Homo sapiens: one gene and its partner. The protein of the gene in region 1 purifies or fractionates together with the protein of each later gene. This does not show direct contact. Each region holds a gene or a part of one and is shown in the gene's direction. Other genes may lie near its edges.

Region 1 (3,656 bases):
AATCTATGAAAGAGATGAAATGATAAGAATAGCGTAAGAGTTTTTAAAAATATAAAAATTGCCCTTTATTTTGGGATGTCTTTCCCATATTTGTTTTTGCTACTGGGGGGTCAGCAGGTGATGATTAAAAATAGATAAAGAAAATACTAGTAATACGAGTACTGCAGATTTATTCTTTTATCGAAATTCAGGAGTCTGAAAATCACTAATTTACCTAATATGATTCAACAAATGAAATTCTTACATTGGTTGAAACATACATACCTCAAGAAATGAGAAAATAGTTATTTGGCACCTTTCTCCAATAAAGTTTTAAAACCAAGCAATTTTTTAAGTACCTTTGTTTTTCTTTACTAGGTTTGTAAATATTATCTCTGTGGTTTTTGTCCTGCGGAATTGTTCACAAATACACGTTCTGATCTTGGTAAGTGAATTTTCTGTGTAACTTTTATCAAATTTATGATATTTAAAATGTTGAATAGGAGTGGTGAAAGGAAAAAAACTGATTATAATTCTGTGAAGTTTTTTCTTAAAGATTTGCTAATAAGTAATTTCTTACTTGGTTTAGATATTTGAATGTATTAATAAATGTCAGTCTGATTAAACATGGTGGCTTAATTAAACATACATGTCTATTTCCACTCCCTCCCAAAACTCCACTTAAATGAAAAAAATTTTAAAAAGATGTATTTGGAAGAGGAGATAACATTAGAGATGTCAGCAAATTTTTGGAAGATGACAAGTGGATGGAGGAGTAGCAGCAAACGCAACAGAGCAGAGCAACCTGTACCCTAAAAGCCTGCAGAAGGGGATACTAAACAGAAGCGAGTGTTTGATCAGCAGAACCCTGGACAGGCTCAGGATTTGGAGGCACCAGGTACCACAGAAGGCAGGGTTGAGTCATGGGGCTGAAAATGAGAGAGATTAGTCTGTAGTCTAGTTCAGGGTTTCTCAACCTTGACATTGTTGACATTTTGAGCCAGTTTTGGAGGGGGCTTTTCATGCATTGTGGGATGTTTAGCAACATCTCTGGCCTTTACCCACTAGATAACCAGTAGCACCCCCTGTTGTGACACCCCAAAATGTCTTCAGACATTGCCAGATGTCCCCCAGGATGCAAAATTGCCACTAGTGTAGGTGGTCCTGTGCATCTGTTGATCTTACTCTCCTCCCCATAGACCCCAGGAGAAGAGAGGGTTATTTTCTGGAGAAATTGGACTAGAGAGACTAGTTTATCTGAACCACAAAATAGAAAAAAATAATTGACTATTTCCTCAATTCTCTCAAGGATGGTACATAACCAGGATCATTCTGGATACATAAAAGAAGTCAATTCATTATGTACAATCTTTGCCTTAGAGCATTAGGAGCATATTAAGGCAGGACCAGTCTAGATCTTGAGATTTCAGACACAGCAGGGGCAGTAGTAAGTTAAAAAAAGAATGTAAAACAGAGTAAATGAATCTATATTTTTATTGGTGGGGCTCTCCTCTGCCCTGTTCCTAGAAGGATACAGCCAGATGTTTTTCCCCAGGCAGAAGAAAAGAGGATTCTTCTCTAGAGAAAGTGAACAGTTCCTGAGAAGTGATCTCTGCAGGTACTGACCCTTGGGGAATCTCTTAAAAGAAAGTCTTACTGCCTGATTTTCCTATGATAAAGCCCATTCATGAGCTGACAAACCCTGCCTAATCCCTACTAACTTCCAGTCAGATTTTGGAAGTGTCTTTTTAAAAAATTAGTTGCTTGCCAAGGACCACCAGCCAGACGTTCGAAGAAAGCCTTCAACACAAGAGATTAACAAAACCAACAGAGAAAGAAGAATTTAGTGGAATTGGAGATAATGGGGAAAGCAGAAGAGAGATTCTTCAAAATCTTAAGAAATTTAGTATCTTCAGAGACATATGAGAAGACACTATATTCTTCAGCAATAATACGATGCCATAAAGAGGGAACTTGTGGAAAAAGTGAAAAACATTTTCTGAAAAACAGCTCTTAGAAATTAAAACTGAAGAAATAGAACTAAAATCACCAGAAAGATTTGAAAATAAAATTAAGGAAATTTACTGGAATATTGGGCAGTACGACAGAAGGATTTTTAAAAAACTTAGTCCAGGAACTGTACTACCAGCTTAATAGTTGTGGACAGAATAAAAGCAGAGGGAATTGCTTAAGAAAAAAAATTTGCAGTACTAAAGGACATTCATCTTTAGGTTGAGCAGGTCCTACAAGTGATCAGGACAGTGAATGAAAAAGATCCATACCTAGGCATACCCCTGTGAAATTTTAGAACACGGGGGTGGTGGGGGTGGGTGTAGGTCACAGAATTATGAATCAGAATGGCCTAAGACTGGTCAGTAACAACGGGGGAAGTTGAAGACATTGGAGAAACATCCTCAGGGTGCTGAGTGAAAATGTGTCTGCCGGAGGGGGAAAAAGACATTTTCAGATATACAGGGTCTCAACTGATTTATCTCCCACGGGCCTTTTCTCAGGAAACTCCACCAAAACATGTCCATAAACCGAGAAAGAGGAAAGAAAAAACAAGAGATCCAGTAATTCTCATCTACTACAGAGCAGAAAAGGAATTCATCAGGACAATAATTCTATAGTGAGCTTAGAAAATAAGTATCCCAGATTGAAGTAAGGCAGAAGGCCCATGGAAGAAAATGAAACTGATGATGTGATATATTTTGAGTCATATGTGAAATTAGTATTGAGATAGTTTCTATAGCTGAGTTTGAAGTGTTTGAGAAGAATTTGAAAATATAGAGAAAAAACTAGGCTCACACCTGTAATCCCAGCACTTTTGGAGGCAAAGGAGGGCAGATCACTCGAGGTGAGGAGTTCAAGAACAGCTTGCCCAACAGGGTGAAATCCTGTCTCTACTAAAAATACAAAAAAATTACGCAGGCATGGTGGTGGGTGCCTGTAATCCTAGCTCCTTGGAAGGTTGAGGCAGGAGAATCCCTTGAACCTGGTGGGCAGAAGTTGCGGTGAGCCAAAATTGCGCCGCTGCACTCCGGCCTGGGCGACAGAGCAAGACTCTATCTCAAAAAAAACAAAACAACAACAACAACAACAGAAAACATCAGAAGTGTCTCATAATGAGCCTTTGTTTGGCCTGACAGTGAATAGTACTTGCATAATATAAGCACCAAGTGTTTATTTATCCAAAAATTTTGATGTCTAGGATTGATAAATAGCAAAATAAGCATAGAATTTTAAAAGGTGGAGGTAAATTCGGGAAGAAATAGAGAAGAGTTAAGATAATTGCTTTTTAGAGGTGGGAAGAAGTAGGGGTTAGGTACTAGTCTAGTGCTATTTGACTTTATATACAGATTTGAAAATAATAAAGTCGGCAATGGTTCAGTTCAGTGGTCTGTCCCCATCAGTTTTCTTTAGTGGCAATAAGGAACAGTTTCCTTTCACCTTCCCTCCTTTTCTCCCTCCCTCCTTTACTTCTCTTTTAACCATATATGGTTGCTGTCCATTATATTGACTTTGAAGACTGAGCAGATCAATTTTATATCCTATTTGGTTATGATGCTTCATGATTTAGTAGGATCAGTTTAGATGTCTACAAACTACTCAGTGATAAAGTGAATCCTTTTTCTTTTTAAAAAGAAAAATAACTCTTTTTTTTTGGCAAGAAAAGG
Region 2 (3,656 bases), on another chromosome or scaffold:
TCCTGACCTCAAGTGATCCACCCGTCTCGGCCTCCCAAAGTGTTGGGTATAATACCCAACACCCAACCCGTGAGTCACCGCACCCGGCCACAAGTGTGTATATGTACCTATTTCCTTATTTTTAAAAATTCAGTTATTTGAATAGGCAACCAGTTCACATGGTAAAACAAGAAAGAGTATCAAGGGCTAAAGGGAGGAGGCTAAGGGAAATTTATGTGTACAGAGTTTCAGATTTGCAAGATGAAACAGTTTTGGAGATCTGTTTTATAACCGTGTAAATATACTTTACTACTGAACTGTACACTTAAAAATTGTGAAGATGACAAAATTTTTTTGTCATGTCTTTATTATCACAATAAAAAATCAGTAAAAGAGTGTGTAGTGAGAGGCTACCCGGACCACACCTATCCTTGAGCCACCCAGACTCCTCTCCAACACCCATTATTTTTTTTGAGATGGAGTCTCGCTCTGTCACCCAGGCTAGAGTGCAGTGGTGCGATCTCGGCTTACTGCAACCTCTGCCTCCCGGGTTCAAGCGATTCTCCTGCCTCAGCCTCCGAAGTAGCTGGGATTACAGGCACACACCACCACGCCCAGCTAATTTTTATATTTTTAATAGAAACAAGGTTTCACCATGTTAGGCTGGTCTCAAACTCCTGACCTCATGATCTGCCCACTTTGGCCTCCCAAAGTGCTGGGATTACAGGCGTGAGCCACCGTACCCGGCCCTAACACACTTGTTTTTACACAAATGGTCATATACTATGCATACTATTCTATACCTTGCTTTTTTTTTTTAACTTAATTTCTCTTAGAAACCTTATCAAGTATGTAGAGAGCCCCCTCATTCTTTTTTGCAGTTGCTAGCATTCCAGTGAATAGTTATATCATAATTTATATGACTATGTGTATATGACATACATGCTCAGTCGATCCTCATTATTTGTAGATTTTATATTTTCAAATTTGCCTACCTGGTAAAAGTTATTCATAACCTCAAATCAATACTAGTGGTGGTTTCACAGTCATTCACAGATGTGCAGTGTCTAAAAAAATTTGAGTTGTCCGACATGCACATGCTTAGCTGAGGTCAAACAGGGCAACATTGCTTTGTTTCAGCTTCCATACTATAAACAGGTGTTCTTTTCAAGGTCTATTTTAGTGCCATCTTTTTCACATTCTGTGCTTTTTTTTTTTTTTTTTTGCGCCCCTCTGGGGATTTTGCTGTTTAAAATGGCCCCTCCAAGGGTAGTGCTGTAGTGCCAACTAGTGTTTCTAAGTGCAAGAAGACTGTGACATGCGTTAGAGAGAAAATATGGTTAGATAAGCATCGTTTAGGCATGAGTTATAGGCTGTTGGCCACTAATTCAATGTTAATGAATCAACAATATGTTTTCAATAAGGTGTCTTTAAACCAAGATACATACAAGGTTATATACTGATCTGTTGACAAAAGTGTTGTCTATCAGAGGCTTTCAGGAACCTAACCCTGTATTTTTCAGAAGGAATGTTTCAATATTTGCTAATTCAATGTTTGCAGCAACTTTATAAAACGTAACTACCATGACTATTGAGAAGCCACTGTATGTGTGTATATATATCTGATTTATTATATATATACATTTAAATATTTGATCCCTTTGGAATATATCTTGGTATAAGACATGAGGTGTGAATCCAACATAATATTTTCCATGGTGGCTACCCAGTAGCTCAACCACCAACTTTTTTTTTTTTTTTTTTGAAATAGAGGTTTGCATGAGACTTTGTCTCAAAAAAAAAAAAATGAAATGGAGGTTTGCTCTTGTCGTCCAGGCTAGAGTGCAATGGCACAGTCTCGGTTCACTGCAACCTCCACCTCCTGGGTTCAAGTGATTCTCCTGCCTTAGCCTCCCAAGTAGCTGGGATTACAGATATGTGCTACCATGCCCAGCTAATTTTTGTGTTTTTGATAGAGACAGGGTTTCACCATGTTGTTGACCAGGCTAGTCTTGAATTCCTGACCTCAGGTGATCCACCCGCCTCGGCGTCCAAAGTGCTGGGATTACAGGCGTGAGCAACTGCGCCCAGCCTCAAATGCCAATTCTTGAATAATACATTTATCTTCTCCAATTTAAGATAGTATCTGTATCATAGACTAAATACCCATATATATTTGGCTTTTTTTTCTAGGTTTTCTATTTTGCTTCACTGATCATTCTAGTTTTATTTTGGAACCATACTGTTTTAATTATTTAGAGTTTATGATGTGTTTTAACATCTAATAGAATATTCATGGTGGGTGCGGTGGCTCACACCTGTAATCCTAGCACTTTGTGAGGCTGAGGCGGGCAGATCGCCTGAGGTCAGGAGTTTGAGACCAGGCTGGCCAACATGGCGAAACCCCGTTTCTACTAAAAATACAAAAATTCGCCAGGCGTGGTGGGGAGTGCCTATAATCCCAGCTACTCAGGAGGCTGAGGCAGGAGAAACGCTTGAACCCCGGAGGGCAGAGGCTGCAGTGAGCCGAGATCGCGCCATTTCACTCCAGCCTGAGCGAAAGAGTGAAACTCCATCTCAAAAAAAAAAAAAAAAAAGAATATTCACTGACTTAGCCAGGTGGCAGATTAAAACAGAAAATCCAGTCATTTGTTAGGTCATTTGAGCTGAGTGGCCTATTTCTCTTTGTTACCATATAGATTTTTTAAATCACGGAATTTCAGAATTAAAAAAGACCAAATATTTTTGGCCTTCATTTTATAGATGAAGAAACTGAAACTCATATTTCGGTAATTTACTCATGTTACCTATTTTGTAAGAGTCAGAATCAGGACTGGACTTCAGATCTGGTATTTCTTCTATCCCCTTAATTGTGTCTCTGTTAAAAGATGCCTTGACCATTTATGGGAAGAGTATATGCAGTTTACCTTTTCTGTTCCTTTTTGTAGAATGGTAGTCGAAGAAGAACACCAGGTGGAGTTTTTCTGAATCTCTTGAAAAACACTCCTAGTATCAGCGAGGAACAAATTAAGGTAATGATAATGTCCTCACCTCTTAAGCGCCATCATAATTTGACTTCTACTCACCCTCTACCTTCATTTTCTATGGATATGCATTACCTGTTCTGCCTTCAGTGGACTGATTTTGTTATTATCTTAAGTAACATTTATGCCTTTTATTTATTTATTTATTTTTGAGGCGGAGTCTCACTCTGTCACCCAGGCTGGAGTGTAGTGGCATGATCTCAGCTCACTGCAACCTCCGCCTCCCGGGTTCAAGTGATTCTCGTGCCTCAGCCTCCCAAGTAGCTGGGATTACAGGCACATGCCACCATGCCTGGCTGATTTTTGTATTTTTAGTAGAGACGGGGTTTCACCATATTGGCCAGACTGGTCTCAAACTCCTGACCTCAAGCAGTCCGCCCGTCTCGGCCCCCACAAAGTGCTGGGATTACAGGCGTGAGCCAGTGCTCCCAGCCAGCCTTTTATTCTTTGTAGAGACGGGGTCTTGCTGTGTTGCCCAGGCTGGTCTTGTACGTCTCGGCTCAAGCAATCCTCCTGCCCCAGTCTCCCAAAGTGCTGCAATTACAGGCATGAACCATTCTTTCTTTACCTATACACTTTTTATTTGTTTCTCTATTTCTTTCTTTCTTTTTTCCCCTTGAGACAGGGTCTAAG

Evidence for each region. The genes of interacting proteins can lie anywhere in the genome.
Region 2: the proteins of LUC7L3 (region 1) and PHAX fractionate together in Homo sapiens (co-fractionation; one large-scale study listed by BioGRID). This does not show direct contact.

The regions. Positions count from the first base shown.
Region 1 is NC_000017.11:50,736,603-50,740,258, forward strand, and holds part of LUC7L3 (luc7-like protein 3), read left to right. Parts: intron 1-357; coding exon 358-424; intron 425-756; exon of another isoform or gene 757-877; intron 878-1,506; exon of another isoform or gene 1,507-1,597; intron 1,598-3,656. UniProt on the Homo sapiens protein: Binds cAMP regulatory element DNA sequence. May play a role in RNA splicing.
Region 2 is NC_000005.10:126,614,323-126,617,978, forward strand, and holds part of PHAX (phosphorylated adapter RNA export protein), read left to right. Parts: intron 1-2,927; coding exon 2,928-3,011; intron 3,012-3,656. UniProt on the Homo sapiens protein: A phosphoprotein adapter involved in the XPO1-mediated U snRNA export from the nucleus.